Linked DNA regions of Homo sapiens: all the other regions are linked to region 1. The links come from fine-mapping of genetic effects on gene expression. A gene starts in region 1. Each other region holds a variant in brackets. All regions are shown on one strand. Distances are between the middles of the regions. Region 1 holds the start of ADGRB3-DT (ADGRB3 divergent transcript). Region 2 overlaps ADGRB3 (adhesion G protein-coupled receptor B3). Region 3 has its middle 23 kb from the start of ADGRB3-DT. Region 4 overlaps ADGRB3 (adhesion G protein-coupled receptor B3).

Region 1 (6,334 bases):
ATGTCTTGATATAGGCAAACACAGCCCCAACTCTAAATCTCTATATAGCAGCAGTTTAAAATAACATCAGAACTGCTGGGACCATCAAAACAGTGTTCTCTGTTTCAAGCAAATAGCTCAATGAATAATGCATTTTCTTCATGAGAAAATAAAGCCAATGAGCATTTAAAGGTTAAAAAAAAACAGAGAAAGTTGTAAGAAATTCTGGAAATAATTTCCTTTTTTTTTTTTTTTTTTTGGTGTTGCACTTTGCAGGCAATGCAGGTCTGCGCAGTGTTCTTCAGGATAGAGTGTAGGCGTTGAGAGCCAATGTGACAATAAGTGTCTAAATTAGGAATTCCATCCATGAAAGGGGACTTCATTTTATAATCAGGAACTCAAAAAGAGGTCGTATGTCTTTTCCTAATGAAATTGGTACTTTTGCTTTCATTTATTTGACAGTGCATGTCTGCAATGCCGTGCTCATCAATGATCAGAGAGTGAGGAAATAGCTCTGAATTCACTTTAATGCCTGCTCAAGAGAGCGCACTCAATATAATGCTCTTTATTTTTAATCAGTCTGGAGTACACAGTCTTATTTTGTTCTAAATAATAAAAAATAAATCATTACCCTCACCCCCCTTTGGACTGCAGGGCCCGTTCAAAAAGCCGTGTTTCCCTCTTAAAGAAGGGGTGGGGGCGGGGGCAAAGGCTGGCCACGGAGGTGTCAAGGATGTTTTATTTATTTATTTATTTATTTATTTATTTATTTATCTCTTGCTGAGAAGCAAACCAGCATTGAGTTTAGCTATTCTCAAAACTGATTTTCTGGGTGACACTTTAGTTTAGTCGAACATAGACGGCGCCATCACTCCACAGATTTTTCCCCCCAATAGAAGACCCACTGCCTTCTCTTAACTTCCTTTTAACCTAAAATTTTCCCCTCATAAAATTACCCCAATCACACAAAACTGCCAGATTTTCTAGGTCTCTCCGCTTATTCCTTCTGACCCAGCACATCTCTTGAAAACCAGACTTCTCTAACTTTTCAACTGCGGCGTTTAAGTAAATGCAGACAGTCGGATCTGCTCACAGCCTCCCCATCCGCCAGCAACAGCCTTTCCTTTCATTTTCCTCCCTTCTCAAACATTAAGCCCAAAGCTCCACGGTGGCGACCCCCGGCAGAGAAAAGGTGACCCCTGGACCCCCTTCCTTACCTTCCACTCCGAAAGCTCAGGGAGGCTCTTGCTCTAAGACACCAGCACAGGCACGCGTCCCAGCAACAGTGACGGAGAGACTCCCCTTCGGTCCCAATCACCGTTGCCCATTTTCCCCGGCTCAGCTTCCAAAATCAGGATTTATTTTTAAAAATGCATACATACGAAAAGCAAAAGGTGGGGGGTGGGAACCAAAGGGGGGTCGATGAGAGAGAGGAAAAAAAAGCCAGCAGGAGCCCAGAACCTTGCGCCGTATCCAACTGAATCCAACCTCCAAACCGAGGGGGGCTAAAGGGAGGGAGAAGCCCCCCCAAGGGAGACTCTAAGGAACCCCCCAAAATGTAAGTGGCTTAATAGCAAAGATTTGTTTCATAAAAGCTACCCCCAACAAACCAAGAAGCAAAGAAAGCGCTGAGACGAGAAGTGACCGGCGGCGGCGGCGGCTGCTATGGCAGATTTGTTGGGGCGGTGGGTTTATTACAGGAGTATTCGTGGTCGGATCGGAAGGCTCAAGCTTATGCTTTTTCCTCTTTCCGCTTTCCTCCCTCCTCCTCCTCCCCCCTGCAGGTACTGATGGACGGACGGCGACTAAGGAGAGCGGGGAAAAAAATCCTTGGCTGGTGATGTCGGAAAGCTGTTTGAATGCCCAGCGAGGAGGGAGGCGCGAGAGGGAGCGAGATAGTAAAGCTCTGTCTCGGGTGTGCGCGCCGGCGCGCAGTGCTCGCTCTCCCTTGGGCGCGCGCGCGGGGGGTGCGCGTGTCCCGGGAGCGCGTCCGCGCGGCGGCCTCCCGCGTGCTCGTGTGCGCGCGCGTCCCGGGTGCCGCGCGCCCTTCTTATGCACAGCTGCGGTGCGCCCCGCCGCCCGCCAGAGGCTCGGCTCGCGCGGCGCGGCCGCTGCGACTTCCTGGAGTTCTGCCTGCCGGGGGCGCGGGCGGGTGTGTGAGAGAGAAGGCGAAGGGAGCCGCGGGGTGGGAGAGGAGGGAGTCCCGGCGGGAGGGCGGGGGAGAGGCTGGCGGGAGGGGGGCTCCACGGAGCTCCAGCCAGGGCCGCGGTTCGCCTGCACGTCACGGCTACTCAAACCCAAGCACGTCCCGAAAGCGGTATTTTCTGCGTCTGGGAGGTTTTTGCATCCTCAGTTCCCACCGCTGGGGCTGGCGGCGACCAACTGTAAGAGAAACTCACTGGGAGGCGAGGCAGGGGGGTGCGGAGGATGGGAAGGCGACTCTGAAGGGTGGGAAGTGAATGCTGGACTTGATCGTCTTTCTCTTTCTTTCAGCGCAGACCTGTCGCAGCCAGAGAGCTGTCATTTCAGTACCGGGATTCAGAATTGATCCAGTCCGCAGCGGAGGGGGCACATCCCAGCTACCGAGCTGCTGAGTGTCTCTGGCTGGAACAATAGTATTTTTTTCTCTGCGAGGCTGCAATTAACATCTTATTTGTTCTGGCTCCATACAGGCTTTGTCAGGATCGCGGTGCGGCGACCGACGTTGGGCTCTTGCATTGCTTTGTGCTTGGCAATGGAATCATGGTTTCGGGGTCTAAACTTTTGTTTCGTTTTGTAGTCTTAATGTATCTGATTCTTTTTCAAGTTTCCCTAGTAACAGGTTTGGGGACGGGGTGGGAAGAAGCGAGAAAAGGGGTGAAGAGAAAAAACCAGATTATATAGAAAGGAAAAAGGGAAAAGGGATGTTTCCCCACCTTTTAATCTAACTATCTATCTGTCTGTCTATCTATCATCATAGATAGTCATTTTGCCTCCTGGACAGTTGGCTGACGAAGTGTCTGATAAACCAGCTTCAGATACATGCTACAAAAGGTCATTCGCCTCCTGATTATGTTTCTACTTGTAAACGCAGTTGGTGGTTTGCAAAACAAGTGCTAAAATAGTGCAGTGATGTGGTGGGAGGAAACCATAATGGGTAATTCATATAAAGTGCTGGAATCTTCGTAAGGGTGAGTTTCTCGAGCGGCAGGTGAAGTTGAATAAAGCAATTTTCCATCATTTGTTCCCCTCACTCTTGCATTTTTTTCCTCCGCTTGTTTCTCTCCCCTGGGGCGATTATGGATAGCCAAGAACACCATTTTAAAAGAGATTGATAGTGAAAACAGGAAGTTTATGGTCTGTTATCCACTGGAGTTGTTTGAAATATTAAAATTGGTCCTTTACTTCTTAATGCATATTAATAGAGTGACCCTCTTCAAGGCTTTCCCGTCTTAAACGAATGCCTGGGATAAACACTGTAAGGGGAAACAGTTAATAATTCCCCAGCAGGCTTTAACTATTTTCCCAGTAACAAATCACCGGCAAGAGAGCAGCCTGGGTGGCATTTTGGTTTTGTGTCATTTTGGTTCTTTACAATATTTTTTATTCATTTAAGGAAATGTTAAAAGGAAATAATTAGGGTTTATGTCCAGAACAAATTTTGAAACACCGTTTAAGCAACACATTTTCTTTTAAAAACAAAGAACATTGAGCAACACAAAGGAGAAAAACATTTTATTTATTTCAACTTCCCTAGAGATCGTAATTATGATTTTCGCAAGGCAATTTGGTCAGTTCTGTTACTTTATCCAGAGGAAAAAAAAGCATGACAGATGTGGAATAAAAACGGAGGAAAAAATGCTTTGGATGGTTTATACATAAAAAGGAAAGAATGTAATGTGAGGTTCAGTTATACCTCTATTTTGCATCTAGTGATTTCTCATATTATCTTGTAACACTGATTTTGATGTTTCTTAGAAATTCTTAAAGTCATGACACAGTGGCATAAGAATAACAGCTGAAAGGGACAATTTAAAAGCCTAAATCCTAAATGGAAAGGTTCACTTACTCCCAGGATCATTTATATTCAAGTAGAAGTCAGGGCAGGGTCAGAAAAGAAAGCCACCCTTAATAAAGCGCTTCACCCTTCACATTGTTTCTCATAACCTTCATAAATTGCAGGCTACTGAGCTGGCCTGATGATGATCCTTCTGAGATATATTTATAGCAGATGATTTGTGGATGATAACTACGCCAAGCAAGACACTGTCTCCAGTAACCCCAGGCTCGTCTGACTTCCTCAGGGGATTATAATAAAGAATCACAAAAAGAACCCTATATGGACAGTCTGGTCTCTGGACACTAACAACAGCACAATCCAAAGGCAAAGAAAGGAGGAACCACCTTGTTTCATGTCTGCAAGCTGCTCCATATGAAAGCATTGCTGACATGTTGACCCAACAGCAAAAAGAGAGCAGCAGTTTACACACCCTCAGCTCTCTGTCCTTTCCTTTCTATTGATGTTGGTCCACTTTTATGACTGAATACATATTAAAATCACCATTTCAAATTATAATTATCTGCTTTCATTGGTCTCTTTCACAAGTCTATGTCTATATTTATGTTTACATATATAAACACATATACACATATTTTATACATACATATGTATATGTATGCACGCATTATTTGTAAGTACACATACACGTGTGTGTATATATATGTATATGATATGTATATGTGTATTTCAGTTGATACACATATATTTGCTTGGGAAGTTTCACTACATTGCTTTGTATTTCTCTTTTATAAGGTAATGCATTTAATTCCAAAACTACCACATTAATTGTATAAATTGATTATTACATAAGTTTCCTTGATGATTTACAGAAGAACTATTGAGAGGTCAGTGTTAGCACATCAAAATATAGTCTGGTATGGCATTTTAAATTGACCCAGGTATCTAATATTAAAGCCTTTCAAATTTATCTCTCCTGCTATTATTTTATTAAGATTACTTTGGAATGATGAGGTTATAAGTGTGATTTATTTCTGTTTCATCTTTTTGTCTGTATGTGCTAAGTTTAGTCCCTCCACTTTGAGAATAACCCTATAATCCAGGATCATTGCTTAAAATTCAGTATCATTTGCAGAATTCTCATACTCAAATAAGAATGTTTCTAGAATATGTTTACTCAATTTTAGAAAGTATTTTCTCTTTCCTTCTTTCTGTCATAGTTTTTCTGATATTACTGTATTACCACATTCTAAACTCTGTGACTTGTTATTTTCAGTAAGGCTTTAAGAAGCATGGATAGGTTTGTAGGTTATTTCTTGTTAAATATGCCTTAATTTTTTAGTATTTAGTATTAGTATTTAGTTTTTAGTATTTAGTATTTAGTATCTCCCATATATATATATGCACACATATATATATACACATATATATGTACACACATACATATATACACACACATATATATACACACACATACACAAAGCTTTGGAATGTTAATTAAATGATCAAAATATTACAAGATTACATTGTTATGAGAACTTATCCTTAATATTAGCATATTTACTATAAAGTTAAACAACTTCTTCTCCTCTGTCTCCTGTTTATTATCATTATTTTATTATTATTAAAAAAGGAAGTCTCTCAGAAACCAAGCTGTATATCCTCTAGTCTCTATGTAAAAAAACAAATTGGTCATTTTCTACTTGGACATCCCAGAATAGAAAGTACATTGAAGTACTAAAAAATAAAGGGATAGACTTGGGGTTAAGGGAGATGTCATAGAACAGCTATCCTGGGTTAGTTCAAGTGTAGTCCTATTCCATGCTAGGCAAAGTCAAGGTTACAAAAATCCCAGTTGCATCAGGTTTCCATTTTTTATCATTATTTCCCTATACAACGATACAAGTTAAAAAAAAGTCGGTAAATACTTTTGGCCATCAATTTTCAAGATTTCATTGGTGATATTAAGGAAATGCTGTAAGTAGGTAACACATAATGTCATATTTGTGTGCTGTAGAAGTATCTTGGAAAATATGGACTTTAAAACCTCAAAATATGGGTTTGCAATCGAACATACATTCACCCCCAAATTTGACCTTTTTCAGCTAGTTATTTTCTCATATAAAGTTACTATACTTACACCATTATCTTTAATCCCTGAAATTTCAATTATACTAGAAATCAAGATTCTTCATTTTTACTCACGAAACTGACACTAAGTATATACCTCATTAAGGACAAGAAGCTATGAATTCTCTGGACTTCAGTTATCTCACAGAAAAGAGCTTGATTGAATAATGTCTAAGGCTCTTCCTGACATAGTCTAAATAACAGAAGGTGTCTCACAAGAAATGGAAG
Region 2 (5,000 bases), 110 kb before region 1:
CCATGTCACAAGTCACAATGGGATGAATTCTATTAAGATATGAGAAACAGGATTCTAATTATGATGTAGTATCATGTATTTCAAACAAATTCCAGTTTATTTGATTATATAAAAATTATAAACATTTTTATAGTGAGATACTTCCTAAACATAGTTATAGAAAGGGCTCTTGTGAATCAATAAGAAGAAAATAATAACTTAAAAAGGGATAAGTAAATTAAGGATACAAACAAGAGGTAGTCAGAAAACATACAAATCACCTATGAACATAAGAAAAGCTTCTCACCTCACTAGGAATTGAAGAAAGAAAAATTAAAATAGTAATGTGATATATTAAAAATTACATTAGTAAACATTTTAAAATTTTTAGATAAATTATTTAAATTTATATTAGGCAACGTTGGCAAGAGTATACCAGAAAGGATATTTTCAAGCTCTATGGAGGCTAATTTGGCAGCACTAACATTTAAAAATGGGAAAAAATGTAAATGTTCATATCTGTGATGCAGAATTCTACTCATAGAAATACATCCATGAGAAAATTTTTACAGTTGTTTACTGTAGCAATTTTGCAATAAATATGCCCATCAATAAAATAATAGGAAACAGTGTCTGGCAAATACTATGGTTTCAATAATTGTAAAGTTATCATCATCAACAGTATCATTATTACAAATCGCAATAAGGAGACATGGAAGGAAAGCTGTGTTATATTGTGAAGTGGAAAAGGTCAGCTACAGAACAAAATAAATGATAAGCTCACATCAAAGGGAAAGCCATAACTAAATATGTGTGTGGGGGGATATATACACATATATGTACATTCTAAATTCATTTCTAAATATACAAATATACATATTAATATACAATATAAATAAGAAAATACATTTATTTCAAAATAAATAAGATTACATATATGACATATATATATAATTCATGAAGATCAGAAGGGAGAACAGAATATCTACTGAGAATATTTTTTAATTCAGGTAAAAAACACATAACAAACTTTACTAATTATTTTTAAATGTTACATTCACATTGTTGGGAAACAGATGTTCATAACTTTTTCATCTTGCAAATCTGAAACTCTATACTCATTAAACAACTCCTCTCTTCCCTATTTCCCCATTCCCTGGTAACCACCATTGTTTCTGTTGCTATAAATTTGACTACTTTGGATACCTCATATAAGTGGAATCATACAATATATTTTTGTGACTGGCTTATTTCACTTAGCATAATGTCCTCAGGCTTCATCCATGTTGTTGCTTATGACAGAATTTACTTCATTTTTAAGGCTGAAAAATATTCCATTGTATGTATACACCACAATTTGTTTATTCTTCTGTCAATGGTCAATGGGCATTTAGGTTGCTTCTACCTCTTGGCTACAGTGAATAGTGCTGCTGTGAACATGGATGTGCAAATATCTCCTCAGAACTCTGCTTTCAATTATTCTGGTAGTGTATCCAAAAGTGGGATTGCTGGAGCATAGTGATTTTTAGATAGTGTAACCACTCACCCACAGGCTATAGGTAATAGGAGACCTGGGGCACTTTCCATCTTTTTTATTGTATTTGAGGCCTATTCCTGCTTTGTTACAAAATTGCTTTACTTAGATTTTCAGATTGGGTTCTTTTTATATTTCTCTTTGTTTATTCCTATTTTTTAAAATTATACTTCAAGTTCTGGGGTACATGTGCAGAACGTGTAGTTTTGTTACATAGGTATACACGTGCCATGGTGGTTTGCTGCACTCATCAACCCACAACCTACATTAGGCATTTCTCCTAATGTTATCCCTTCCCTAACCCCATATCCCCCAACAGGCCCTGGTGTGTGATGTTCACCTTCCTGTGTCCATGTGTTCTCATTGTTCAACTCCCACTTATGAGTGAGAACATGTGGTGTTTGGTTTTCTGTTTTTGTGATAGTTTGCTGAGAATGATGGTTTCCAGCTTCATCCATGTCTCTGCAAAGGACATGAACTCATCATTTTTTATGGCTGCATAGTATTCCACGGTGTATGTGTGCCACATTTTCTTTACCCA[G/A]TCTATCAATGATGGGCTTTTGGTCTGGTTCCAAGTCTTTGCTATTGTAAATAGTGCTGCAATAAACATATGTATACATGTGTCTTCATAGTAGAATGATTTATAATCCTTTGGTTATATATCCAGTAATGGGATTGCTGGGTCAAATGGGATTTCTAGTTCTAGATCCTTGAGGAATTGCCACACTGTCTTCCACAATGGTTGAACTAATTTACACTCCCATCAACAGTGTAAAGCATTCCTATTTCTTCACATCCTCTCTGTTTTTTATTTGATATATTTATTCATTAAAAAAAGTTCTGTTTTTGTATTATAAATGCAATTAGTAAAATAGAAGCCTTCAAGATAAAATAAAATGTGTGTTTTCTTCTTTTCCTTCATTCTTAGCTCTATTCTTCCCCATCTCTTTCCAACACTACTTGTCAAATTTCACTCATGTACAAACCTTTTACCCATGAAAACAACCTGTCATTTTTCCATGAGTGTATGATACTCTACAAATAAAATATATATACATATATACATATATTGTGTTTTAAATTTTAATAGACTCCAGATTGTTTCACAAAAAAAGGAGGAGGGCTCTAACCATTCTCACTTCCACCAGCAGTTTCTAAGCAGTCCTCTGTTCCCTACACATTAGCGCTATGATTCTTAATTTCTGTTATTTAATTAACATAAATTACAAAATTAACAATATAACAGAATTAACAGTTTCTGCAAAACTGCTACAATTCTGTTATTTAGTTCTCTTAATTTCTCAACAGAAATTTACTTGTTGGTGTAAAATTAAGTTTCATTTTAATTTGCATTTTTCTGGCAAGTTCTGAGTGTCAGTTTTATTTCTCATATTTTGGGGAATTTCTATTTCCTTTTTAGTGAATTTCCTTATCTCTTTTCAGAATGTCTATGTCTAGTGTAACCCAACAACTTTACCAGAGCTGACTTAAGAAGATACAAACATGCATATATACACTCACACAATTAATAGTGAAGGAAAGTTCAGCCTCAAAAAATAGAACACATGTCTAAGAAAACATGGGTTATCAAACTATTTGGAAAGTCAGGAAACTTCCCGAACAGAAAAAAAAAATGGAGCACTTAAACATTTTCAAATCTACCACTAACAAGAATTTCTGGATATACACACACACACAAAAAAAAAAACAAGTAGAAGATTCAGATGTCTCAACTTAGGAAATCAGAAGATATATTGAAGGTGAGCACAGTCATTGCTGAGATCTTAATCAGTAGCCTGAATGATCCAGAAGAGAAGGAAAACATGAGAGAAAAGATGAGACTTGGCAGATATATTCAGGTGACCTCATACCCAAGTAATAGGAATAACAATAAAAGAAGGAACAGAGAAAGAATCTATAATTAAATATTTAATTGAAGCAAATTTCTGAGCTAAAGAAATGTGATTCTATAGACTGAAAGAGCTCACGAAATCCAGCCTAGATATATCAGAAAACGTATACGCATGCCTAGTCATATCTGGTAAACTGAGCTGTAAGAATAAACACAAGTACTATAGAACTCCAAACAGGGGTGAAAAAATAGTTGCTTAAAAAGATACAAGAAATACATCTTTATTACATAAAATTTAGGAAAAAATAGAAAATTATAAAAAATATATTAAAATTACATGTATCCCACTATATAAAATATTAATAGATGTTTTAATGTTCACACCATTTAGTTTATTTTCCTTTTTGAGGAAAAACAATATCTAGAAGTTTACGTGGCTACTTTATTATCACATTATTTCTTAAGACTTCAATTAATATTTTAGGATGATTTAACATTTAGTGATTCCCTGCTTAGTGCCAAATACTGTGGTGAAATATTCACCTCTCCTTTATTCTAACTTAACCTTCACAGAAAATCTATGTGGTAGGCATTTATTATTCTCTGTTTATTGAGAGTAAGTGACTTCTTTGGGTGGTGCAGATGTGGGAAGCAGAGGAGTCAGGTTTCAATTTCTAATCCAAATTTTAAACCTGTCCTTTCAACTATAACAACTCACTTTTCAAAGAATCAGCCTTATTCCTGAGAATGATTAATATAGATAGTGCTTTTATTTTTCTTTTTCCCCTCTGTCAGAGTCAAGACCCAGAGAAAGAAAAAAAAAACTATAAGAGTTCCTTTAAAATGTGTATGACCTGTCATAGAAAGGATTAAATTTCCATTCATATATTTATGTTGAGACATAATATATAAACAGTGTGCTTAATGAGAACTGGAAGAATTACAATATATGCTGAATTTGAAACTAGTTTACATCATGAAGAAGCCACTCATTAGCAATGACTTGTGATAAGACTGGGGAGAAAACACCACAAGCAATTTATCTCCTAGGATTTCTTCAGAAGTCAGTGGCAAAGCAATAATAGTCAGTGAATGACATCACAATTTTAACTTATTTCAGGGAAAGTGTTTCCATGTAGTTTTCTTCATATTTTAAGCTAAATTCTTCAAACAAAAGATATATGAACATTCAGTTCTTTGCATTTTTAACACAGAAACTTGTGTTCAAAGTTTTTATGAATTTTCCCATGTGGTCCTTCCTACTTAAACAACATGTGAACTCGTGAATGATAATGAATTTGCATATTTAGCTAAAACGTTATAAGAAGAAGAATGCAAAAAGGAATGCTGAAAAGAATTTTTAAAGAACATTTCATCAGAAGCAAAAATGTTTAGGTTGTAAAAAACTGATGACAATAATTCAACCTGTCACCTTAATCAGCCAGTTTGATATTAGATTACTCTTCTATACTTATGATAGAAAAGGTAACAAACAGTGGTTAAGAAGGCCAGGGCAGGCACAGTGCTCAAGCCTGTAGTCTCAGAACTTTGCGAGGGTGAGGTGGGAGGATCACTTGAGCTCAGGAGTTTAAGACCAGCGTGGGCAATACAGTGAAACCCTGCCTCTGCAAAAAC
Region 3 (6,334 bases), 23 kb after region 1:
TGAAATCTAACTTAGAATTCCATTCCCTTTATTATACCCTATACATTCACCACTGATTTGATAATATTTGTTTAGCATCCATTATGTTCCAAGCATTATTTTAGGTCCTGTGATACAGCAATGAACAGAATAGAAAAGTTCTCAGATCTCTAGATGCATATGCCATGTGGTGCTAAGTGCTATGATTATGAGTAAACCCACGTAGAGGAGTAGAGAGTGACGGAGAAGGTGGGGTCAGCTGTTTTTTACAAGTGGTCAAGAAAGGCCTCTGTGGTCTTTGAGAAGAGACCCAAAGTAGTGAGTGCAGGACAGTTTCTGTGTGACCTTGGCTGACCAGGCTCCCCACCCTTTTTCTTCCTTGAAGTTGGTAGAATAACTGTAGAATATGCTGTGGATGCAACATCCTGAGATAAGGGGAAGTGGCTGGAAGAGCCCAAGCTCTGTTCCTGTACCCCCAGAACAATTTAGCCCAATGCATAAGGTACTCTGGGGTGTAAAACCCAGCGAGGAATGTTTTCAGGGTCTCTCACCTGCAGCACAATGTGAGACACATGCAGAAAAGACTCCATCTGCCCTGGACAGCCTTCCTGAACAGCTGGCCATTAGTCTTAGGCTTTTACTGTCCCCTACTACTTCTCTGTGAGTGAGAAGTTGCTTCACTTAACTTGTTTGTATGAGTGCTGTTCCACTGAACTCACACAAGTGAATTAAAACCAGTCCATGGTATTGGTGAGGTGTTTACAGTCCTCCTCTGGAATTGATACTGGGGCACAGTGAACCTGCTTCACCATAAGGAATTCAATCCGTCTTGTATCTGAAGCCAGAGGTATTTGAAATGGTAGAGATAATAAGTGCCAAGGCATGAGCTAGATAGACATTTGCTTACTGTGTTTTTGGTACAAGAAAGTTTGAACGAAAAGGGGAGTTGATGGAAGATACAGTCAGAGAGAACTATGTGGCCCAACACTGAGCTTCCAAACAAACAAAAAAACTGTCCTTGTCCTCCAGGGCACCACTGTGCTCTGTGCCCTAAAAGCTGCCGTCTAGACTCCTTGAGCTGTTGCAGGCTCTTCTCAGGCCATTGTGTTACATTTTACCACACAAATGAGAGGTTTCTGGGATTTATCAGATAACTCACTATCTTATTTCAATAAACACCATGATAATTAAAATCATTTTATTTTCTTATTCCAAGTCTCTGTTCATGGGTTGACACTTTTGAAACATTTTACTATCTTATTAATAAAGTCAGATGTTTAATGTCATTTTCTCTTAACTATACATTACTTTTTAGGTTTGCCCATACTTTCCTTATATTTACTTGAACATTTTGTTTCTCTTTATAACTATTTCTTTAGTGGACTAATGTGTCCCATTTTTAACTTATTTCCACAAATAAATTATGATGATATATGGTGATACAGGTTTCATATATGTTTAAATCACTTCAGCTTATAAATTAAAGTTTATTTTGGAGACTAAAATTTAGGCATCACTTTCTTCTACAGAATAGTAATGGGTGAATAATTTCTTCATGTTGCATATTTCTTGATTTATGAATGAGATTCTTTAGAGTTGTGAACAGAAATTACATATATATGTATATATATAATTTCACAAGGAATGTTTGTTTTTAAAAAATATGAACAGTTCATAGTTTGAAGAAGAAAATATTCAGAACTAAACAAAATAAGATTTTTGTTTACAATTATTCATATTGTTGCCTATGCATAAATACATGAGAATATATGTACACAGTTGTATCATCCTGTATATATTTTGTAACATACTTTCTTAAGTGGAAAAGAAAATTTAAATGCTTCATTGAAGTGATATATTTTGCCTTTCAACTTGAAAGCAATTGAATAGAAAAGCTGATACTAGAGTATGAAACCATTTATGTAATCCTAAAATTCAAAATTATTTTATATATACAACACAGAAAACAAACATAACAGTTTCAAGATAGGGTTTACCACCAGAAAAGGAGGACAGAAAAAAGGAGAGTGGTGTGAATGTTCTTAAAGCTATCCGTTGAGTGTTATTTTTTGATATAATAATCTTTGAGACTAAATAATAAATAAATAATTGTCCTAAAACATTACTTTTAAAATCTTATTCCCCAATTTAGAAAATTTCAAACTGTAAAATTTAACATCTGTTAAATCTTACTATATATTTCTCACTTCTTTCATGAAAATTAAAACTTTCTACCAATAACATTTAAAAATATATATATTTGGTATTTCTTTAAAAACTTTTTTCTACATCTTCATTTTAATGGCCACATAAAATTCCATCATATGAATGTGCTATAATCTGTTTAAACCTTCCGCTATGTGTGATCATTTTGAATGTTTTCAGTACTTTGGTACTAGTAACCATATTGCAGTGATAAACTTTTTACCCAGTTCTACTGATATTTAAAAATAAGTCCTTTCTGAGTGAAAATGATAAACATGTCTAAGGACTTTCATATATTTATATTGCCAACTTATCAAATGCCATAAATGAGTCTGTGTTAATTTCTACTCTAAATAACAATAAGAGATAGTGATCAATTTAATAAACCATCTACCAAGCAGTAGTTAGTATTTAAATAGTTTTCTATTGATATGAAATTAAGACAAATCATTTCTTAAAATATCATTTAGTGAGGATTAACTTATTTTCATGTGTTTATTAACTATTTACACTTCTTCAATGTAGTACAGTGGTTAAGGGCAAGGCCTTCACAATCAGAGATAAATGAGTTTGAGAACAAGTTCTGATATCATTGGATGTATTCCCCTGGATGAGTTAATTAATCTCTCTAGGTCATTATTTTCTTTTATGCACACAAATTGTATTTTATTGTTTGCTAGGGCTGCAGTAACAAAGGAAAACAAACTAGGTGGCTTACAGACAGAACTTTATCATCTCACAGTTCTGAAGCATACAAATTCAAATCAAGGTGTTGGCAAGGTTGGTTCCTTCTGAGGGTTGTTAGGGAAGGATCTGTATTTTCCTTTCCAAAGTCTCTAGACAATTTCCAATATTTTATTGGGTATGGATAAAAAGTGGATAAATTATTCTTAAAAACAATTTGGTTCATCAAAAGACAATGTTCAGAAAAGGAAAATGCAAACATGGAGAGGAAGAAATTATTCACAATCTGCATGTGAATATTTACTAACAGGTTTAAATGTAACCCATGGAGGATTTTAAATGTTTGTAACTAAAAGGCTAGCCTCAATAATTGCCCAGCTTGAATTTTTATCAACAATTCAGACAAGAAGTTGATTTTAAAAGATAGTTGTAAAAGGTTAAAAATATATCAGCTATGCATATAAGAGCTTTGATATGGACAAAGAAAAAAGATGACCAAGGTCTCATCTTTACTAATGACCTAGTGTCCTGGAATTAGAAGACACTTAGTTTCCTCAATCTTTGATATAGACCAAA[A/G]AGAAAATGGCAAAGGAAATGATTGAAGCCAGAAGACTGGTAAATTAGGAGAGCCAGGTGCTCTGGATTATGCTGCAGGTTCCCATTGGCTACTTTGCACCTCTCCAATCAAGACTGTTTTTTGTTGCCAGAATAAATGTCCTATAACATTATTTTTAGAATCTTATTTCGCAATTTAGAAAACTTCAACTACACAAAATGCGCACTTCTCTGTTATTGTTTCAAGACGTTTCATAATCTTTTTTCACCCTCTCCTTCCAGGCACATTAAGCTTCTCTGGAGTTGGAACTATTTATTTTACCAACCCACAAATGCATCATGATAATTTCTCTCTCTAATTCCCTTTCCAGGTTATTCCCTAGCCATAAATTAAATTGGGTTCAATAAATATATTCACTGAACTCATCTTTTATATAAAACACTGTGAGAGACACTAAAATGAATCAAAACACTGCCCTCACTGTTGCACATAGTGTCTTTTACATGCCAGCTGCTGAGAAGATACACGAGGTAAAGAATGAAGAAATGAACAGTTATTATAACTTTCTGTCTTACACCTTGCCCCTTCATTTTTGAAAAAAGTAAAAATATCAAGATTCTTTTATTCTATGAAGGCTTTCTTAACTACTCCAATTCTTTATAATTTATTTATGTTAGAGCTCTTTCAGTCTGTACTCCTTGCTATTAAACTGGCGATCCAAGGGCCCATAGTACATTATGCAGACTCTCAGGCTCCACTGCTAACCCACCAAATCAGAATCTGCCTTTTAATAGAATCTCCAGTGAGATACACACACACACACACACACACACACACACACACACACACATATATCCAGTGACATGCATATGTGTGTATATATATATAAAAGCACTTGTCATACCATAGAATTTGCCATTTTTTGGTATATAATTCTGAATTATTGTGATTTGTCATTAAGCCCCAGAATCCCCTTGTGGCCCTAAATAAATGCTTGCTTATTGATCACATTGAGAAAATGACAGAACTGTAATAATTCACAAACACAACATAAAATACTTAGTAGTGGTGAGAAATGTAGTCCTATAACTCCACCACAATAACCAAAAGAAATTAATAATAATACAGTAAGATATAGTTTATTTTGAGAAAAAATTAAATTTCCTAATAATGTTCTTCATAACTTTTATAAAACATTCAGACTTCAGTGATATATAAAGCATAGAATTTAGGTGTAGTCTCCTTTTATCTGGAAGAGCCACTCCCTTCCATTTATGCCTTTCATGATGTTGGTGTTGATATTTTTCAAAAATTTCAGACCATTTGTCTGATACTTGAATTTGTCTGAATACGACCTGTATTAGGCTTCTCTAGAGGGAAAGAACTAATAGGATATAAAGGAATTTATTAAGTATTATTAATTCAAACGATCACAAATTCCCACAATAGGCTGTCTACAAGCTAAGGAGCAAGGAAGCCAGTTCGAGTCCCAAAGCTGAGGAACTTGGAGACTGATGTTCAAGGGCAGGAAGCATCCAGCACAGGAGAAAGATGTAGGCTGGGAGGCTAAGCCAGTCTAGCCTTTTCACATTTTTTTTTTTTTTTTGCCTGCTTTATATCCTAGCCTCACTGGCAGCTGATTAGATGGTTCCCGTGCAGATTTAAGGATGGGTCAGCCTCCCCCAGCCCACTGACTAAAATGTTAATCACCTTTGACAGTACCCTCACAGACACAGTCAGGATCAATACTTTGCATCCTTCAATCCAATCAAGTTGACACTCAGTATTAACCATTACAAGTCTGCCTCTTGTCAACTTGAACCCATGCACATCTCCAGAGATCATACATCACCTTCAAATAAAGACAATAATGTCATAATTACATCAAACTTAATACAACTCTCCTTTGTACAACCAGAAATGCACCAATCCCCAATCAAATGCTATTCCATAAAGTTAACAATACTTAAGTGCTGAAGTGAAATAAATAAATCTTATGTCACATGATAAAGGAAGAAGAAAATAAAATGAAGCTGTTTTAAGTACAAGTGTATACATGCACAAACATGTTTTTAACAAAAGAAGGAGGAAATACTCATGACATTTATAATCCTCGTTTCTGCAGCTGGTCACGTGGTCATAGCTGGTATTGATTACTACCTTCTACCACCTGTTCTGTATTCCCTTTGCCTTTAGCAAGCAGGTTGTGGTTTTTTTTTCCTGGTGGAGTGACCCAAATCTTCATTCCTGAAGGGTCTGGGTCATTTGTAGCCCTGCCTAGATTGGGCTGTTGTAGTTTCCCATTGACCTTAATCACAGGGCATGGTAATACTAAGAGCAACCCTAAGGGATCTCCTGTATTCCATGAGTACTCTTCCTTACCTCCACTGTGGAGTAGTAGACTGATTTCATCTTGATAGCCTGGGTCAATCACCGCAGCCAACACTGTAATTCCTTTCTTAGCCTGTTGACTTAAAGGTAGAAGGAGCCCAAAGTGTCCAGGTGGCAATCTTAACTTCCAGTTTAATGGAATGATTGTTGTGTCTCCTGGTAGCAGCCTTCCTCCATCTGATACTACAACCTCTAGGCCAGTAGAACATAATTTCATGGAAACAGGAAGCAAAAATTTGCTAGTGGATCACTAGGGGTGATCATGAATGGTGCCACTTCCACTTTCATCCCTTGATTCCTGGACCTGTGAATCCTGGCTATGGGAGATACAGTATCATATATTGGAGGTTGATTCAGAGCATACATGGCCTTCTGGAGAACTTTGCCCCAGTCCTGCAAAGTATTGTCGCCTAGTTGGCATTGCAATTGTGACTTCAAAAGGCTATTCCACTGCTCTAACTATCCAGCTTCTTCAGAAGGATGAGGAACATGGTAAGACCAGTGAATTCCATGAGCATG
Region 4 (5,000 bases), 32 kb before region 1:
AATTACCAAAGGAAAAAGAACTTGTGCTGATTATAGCAGATATGATGGATTGGAGCTCACTGTCTATTATAGCTTCCTAATATGAATTCCTGTGCTGTCAATTTTGAAGGGCTAAAATCTACATTTTGCAGACTTCCCTGTCGGTAGGGTTCCGGATGTGATTTAGTTTCAGCTTATTAGACACTGTTATACAAGATTTGAAAGAGAGATGTTTTTTCTGCCATAAAGATGGCCATGAAAGCATTTTGTCCTTTGGGGGATCATTCCACTATTGATGCTTATGAAAAGATTTAGCATGAGGCTTCAGTTTTTTGGCTCTAGCAGCTGCTACAGTTTGGAACCAATATTCTACATGGTAACTTCCTGTTCTCTAACTTGCAGGAAAGGGGATTATCATCAGTTAGCTTATACTACATGGTACTTAGTAGCTTAAACAATCAACATTTATAGTTTCACAAGGTTATGTGGCTTGGCTCGGTGGTTCTGATCCCCAGGATGTTCTGCTAGGGCTGGATGGTCATATATGTAGGTCCGAGGCTGGTGTGGCTGGAATTGTTCAGTGTAGCTGGGATTGTTCTAAATGTGGGGCCTCTCTCCTGTGGTCTCTTATTTTCCAGAACACTAGCCCTAGTCGCAGACATTTTTCAGTGTACCAGTGGCCAAAGTATATCACATGATATAGTTAATTGAAAACATGGCAAGAAAATTTTACAGCTCTGTTTCACTGACTCTTGAATCTGGGCTGGCCTTGTTATAATAGTTATTTTGACAAATAGAATATGGCAAAAATAACAACATGCAGCTTGGGATCCTAGGTATAAAAAAACCTTGGAGTCTCAGAAATTTCTGTTTTCCTGGAAGAAAGTTAGTTATGAAATTTTGTTCTTATGAATGAACTATTTATTATACTGATGTAAATATTTATCTGAAACACATATTATTCTAAAAATTGTTTGACTTTCTCAGGTTCTACGGATATAAATTCAGACTGGAATCATTCCTAAAATTTCTTTCAAGATTATAATATTAGGTTAAAGAGAAGACACAGAACTATAGACACTAAGCAGGGGAAGACCTATGAATTAGCATTTTAGCATGCACATCCAGGTTTAGTAGAACTGTGAAACCACCAGGTAGCTTTGATGGTTTTGCTTAAATCTATAACATTAAATTTCTAGCTGAATTGCACTATGAACAAATAATCACTTGTAAATCTTACAAGTTCCTTCCTTTTAAGTAATGGGAGTGTTTCTAATCATTCTACAATTATGATTATAAGTTGAACTTAGCCAATGATACCAGTTTGATCTTTATATTTTATAAAAGTTACATTACATTTTCCCCTAAAGTTTAAAAAAGTACCAGCTCTATGTTCTATATATAATATAATTCTATATATTCTGGCATGGTTTATAATGCAGTTTGACTATACAGTAATCCATTACAACTACTGAATGACAACTACAATTTTCCAAGTAGTATTATTAATACTAAGAATAGTGGGTCAACTTCATATTTGTAGAGAACTAAAAATAACCACATTAATTTGGATATGATACTTTTTTTCAGAGAGTACAAAACACTTTCCTTTAAATTATCCCATTATCTCAATCATTGGCCACTAAAATTCCATGTATTTCTTATCAAGGTCATTTATCATTTCTTTTTTTAGGGTAAGTCATCCAACTACATTTATTAAGTTCAAAATAAGTTCTAGTTATGACATTAATAAGTTTTCAAAAATTATTCTAAGAAGAAATAAAAATAGTTAATGACAAAATTAGACGATAAGGTAGAATTTTAATTTGCTACTTTATTTATAATTCTTAATTTCAGAGAAATTAAGAATAAAATTTTTCTCAAAATATCTTGATAGACTTTACAATGAGCATTTACAAAAACCACAATGTTATTCTCTGGGACCTATGACTAACTTGCGTGTCAACAGAACAGAAGAAAGCATTTCTTCTGAGGGGACTAGGACAATTACAGGTATCCATCAAAAAGTGTAATGATAGGGACAAGTGGATTGAAAAAGGACCCATTTGTTCAACTCTCTTCTAAATGGGAACAGTCACATGAATAGACAACTTTAATGGTGGAAGAGAACATAGAGATATAGGTCAAGAGCCAAAATCTCAAATTCCTTCCGTGGTCACACAACTAGCATAAATGTATGAAGTGGCTACACATGAGCTAATTCTGAGTGGCAGAGACTGAAGGAACTAGTGACACCATGCCCTGACTGAAAGCATTTAAGTTTCAAACATGCCTTAAACACTGAGCTAATACATCAAAATGTTTCTTCAGGTAGACTCAGGTCTGCTAGTTTGTGATTCGAGATCTTGTCTATGAGATATTTATTAATGAAGAACATGACACTCAAAGATAGGAAGTGTCTCGCCTAAGGTCAGAGGTAAATAAATCCCATGAATATATTCCAAATGGAATGCACACCAAAATAGTTAAATGTCACTATATAAAACCAAATATTATGTTTATTTATCATTTGATGTTAGATAAACTTCTAAGAGATCATACTGCACTGCTAATCTTGGGATTACAAAATTTAGACACTAATATAGGATGTTTATGTGATATACATTTATATTACTATAGTATTTAACATAAGAGCTCTGTACATGAATACAAAGGTGTTAACTTATAATCCAAATCATAAGTATAAATTATTGGAAATATTTTATTTCCCTAATTAGTATATTCAGAATAAAGTATTTATAGTTATTAATTTGAAGAATTTAAAGAGATATCCAAGCAAAAACATATTTAATATTAGAAAAATGAAGCCCCAATTAGCAATGATGATGTTCATGATAGTTTAACATTATCGTGTAACTATCATGGTATGTGGTACTTGTCTAAACACTTTGCATATGTTGGTCAGCTCCATTAAACCCCAACAGAGCTCTGTGCAATAGGCACTGTTATTGTTGTTGTTGTTTTCCTCCAGAGATATTCAAGTTATACCAAAATACCTAAGGTCC[G/A]ATAATGTTAATTTAGATAAAATTATTTTGAGGAATATATTTTGGACTCCAATTAAATACTTCAAAGAATTAGCATCTTTTTTATCTTTTCTTCCAACTCTTGAAACCCAATTGGCACAACAAAACAAATATAAAGAGAAAGAAAAACTATCCATTTACAGCAAAGAAATGAAAATACCATGACCCCAAAACACAAACTACAGAACCTACAAAATACCAAGACTATACTTTCAGGGATCATTTCTATAGTTTGTTACTAGAGAAGTTTCTCTGAACGTGTAGAGCACCGAGAACCTACAAAATACCATGAAATGAGAAGTGATGATAAAGAGTGGTCCTTCACTCTTCACCTTTCAAGAAGGACAGCATTCCCTAAAGTATCTTGGCCAGTAAAGAAGGCTGAAGGTGAAGCCTGGTGAAGGTGGGAGGGGAGAGATCTCGTGACTTAAAGAATCGAATCCAATTACATACACAGTACATGAACACCAAAAACTGAGAGATGAGCTCCCACCCAAAGATTGAGTAAGAATGTGTATAAGACTAAACTCTGATGGAAGCTGCTGCAGTCCACTCACTGTCAGCCACACTCTCCTTGTGCTCACTTCCCTCCAAAAGCCCCCTTCACCCTCCCTTATGCAATATTTCAGACAAATATTTGGAGGCAGTAAAGTACAGTGGTGAAGGCTCTGGAGACAGCCTGGGTTCAAATCATCATTCTACCACTGTGAATCCCTGGGCACGCTTAACTCTCTGCACAACTTTCTTATATAGGCCAGAAGAGCATAAAAATAGTAGGATTCAGAGGTATCTATCTTAGTCAGTTTGGGCAGGTGTAACAGAGCACAATAGCCTTGGTGGCTGATAAACAAAGGAAATGTATTTCTCATAGTTCTGGGAGCCAGAAGTCTGAGATCAGGTTGTCAGCATAGTCAGGTTCTGGTGAGGACCCTCTTCCATGTTCTTAGCCATTGACTTCTTTATGACTCACATGGCAGAAAGAGAACTTGCGAGCTCTTTGACCTCTTCTTGTAAGGGCAATAATCTCATTCACGAAAGTTCCATTCTCATGAACTAATTGTGACCCAAAGTCCCCAGCTCCAAATATCATCACATTAGCATTAGGATTTCAACATATGAATTTGAAGGATGGCAAAAACATTCAATCTCTAACAATATTTTATCCTAAATATAATATCAAACACATCTCAAACATTTTCATACTACTAAAAAAAAATCGGTATTTGAGAATGAGGGTACATCAGCTTTCAGTAATGATGTTACCATAAAAAATGTGCTTAAAATTATTTATTACGTTCTAAAAATGTAGGATGCTATGAGAAATAAAAGTAAATTAAGACAAATGAGAACACTTATCATTTTAAAAACGACAAATATCATTCAGCATATTCGACTCATTTTAAAATAATCCTTTTATCCCATGAATGAAATTTCTGAATTCAATTTTGCTGATGGTGACTTTCCTATTGACTCTCATGCTTTTAGTGAAAATTAAATTGCACAAAAATACCACACTGCAGATGTTTTAGTTGGGCTACTTGTAATTTATAGATAATGTAACTCTAAAGATCACAATGTGTAGCACGCTAAAATACTTGAATCATATTTGACTTTCACATATTTAATAACGAAGTTTCTAGATGAAGAAGAAACAGTAGAAAGCCAAATGCTCTCTTCGGCTTTTCATATTTAAGTCATGATGAAATCAAGGCAACTTGCTCATTGATAGTTGTAGAATTTCTGCCACTTTAAAATTATTTCTATTCAAAGCTTCAAAAGTTTCTATTCATGGCTCCTAAGGAATGAAGGCAAAAATTGAAGCAGGCGATTCTTTAAAGCAAAATATTTCTTTCATATTAACCCTGAAGTTCTACAATGCATTGCCTTCTATGGGCAAAACACACATGGATAGTAATGGCAGATCTAAGCAAATATACACAATTTAAAAAGGTACAAAATTGGTTGCATAAATTCAAA

The links.
Region 2: its variant is fine-mapped to the expression of ADGRB3-DT in whole blood (INTERVAL, PIP above 0.99).
Region 3: its variant is fine-mapped to the expression of ADGRB3-DT in whole blood (TOPMed, PIP 0.98).
Region 4: its variant is fine-mapped to the expression of ADGRB3-DT in esophagus muscle (GTEx, PIP 0.99).

Annotation. Positions count from the first base shown.
Region 1 is chr6:68,630,863-68,637,196 of GRCh38, reverse strand. ADGRB3-DT (ADGRB3 divergent transcript) reads left to right here and starts at 2,873. Exons shown (of 2, transcript NR_125872.1): 1 at 2,873-3,012; 2 at 4,141-4,534. ADGRB3 (adhesion G protein-coupled receptor B3) reads right to left here and starts at 1,915. Exons shown (of 32, transcript NM_001704.3): 1 at 1,197-1,915. It overlaps LOC127898563, which reads right to left and starts at 1,307. Exons shown (of 1, transcript NM_001414704.1): 1 at 1,230-1,307. The coding sequence starts at 1,307. The coding sequence ends at 1,230. RefSeq lists a silencer at 1,967-2,176.
Region 2 is chr6:68,741,563-68,746,562 of GRCh38, reverse strand. All of the region lies in intron 3 of ADGRB3 (adhesion G protein-coupled receptor B3), which reads right to left. Among named protein-coding and RNA genes, the nearest start is that of ADGRB3, 110 kb to the right of the region's middle. The variant G/A (reference allele first, on the strand shown) is at 2,055.
Region 3 is chr6:68,608,180-68,614,513 of GRCh38, reverse strand. No RefSeq gene overlaps it. Among named protein-coding and RNA genes, the nearest start is that of ADGRB3-DT, 23 kb to the left of the region's middle. The variant A/G (reference allele first, on the strand shown) is at 3,445.
Region 4 is chr6:68,663,469-68,668,468 of GRCh38, reverse strand. All of the region lies in intron 3 of ADGRB3 (adhesion G protein-coupled receptor B3), which reads right to left. It also overlaps the pseudogene LOC124901511. Among named protein-coding and RNA genes, the nearest start is that of ADGRB3, 31 kb to the right of the region's middle. The variant G/A (reference allele first, on the strand shown) is at 3,006.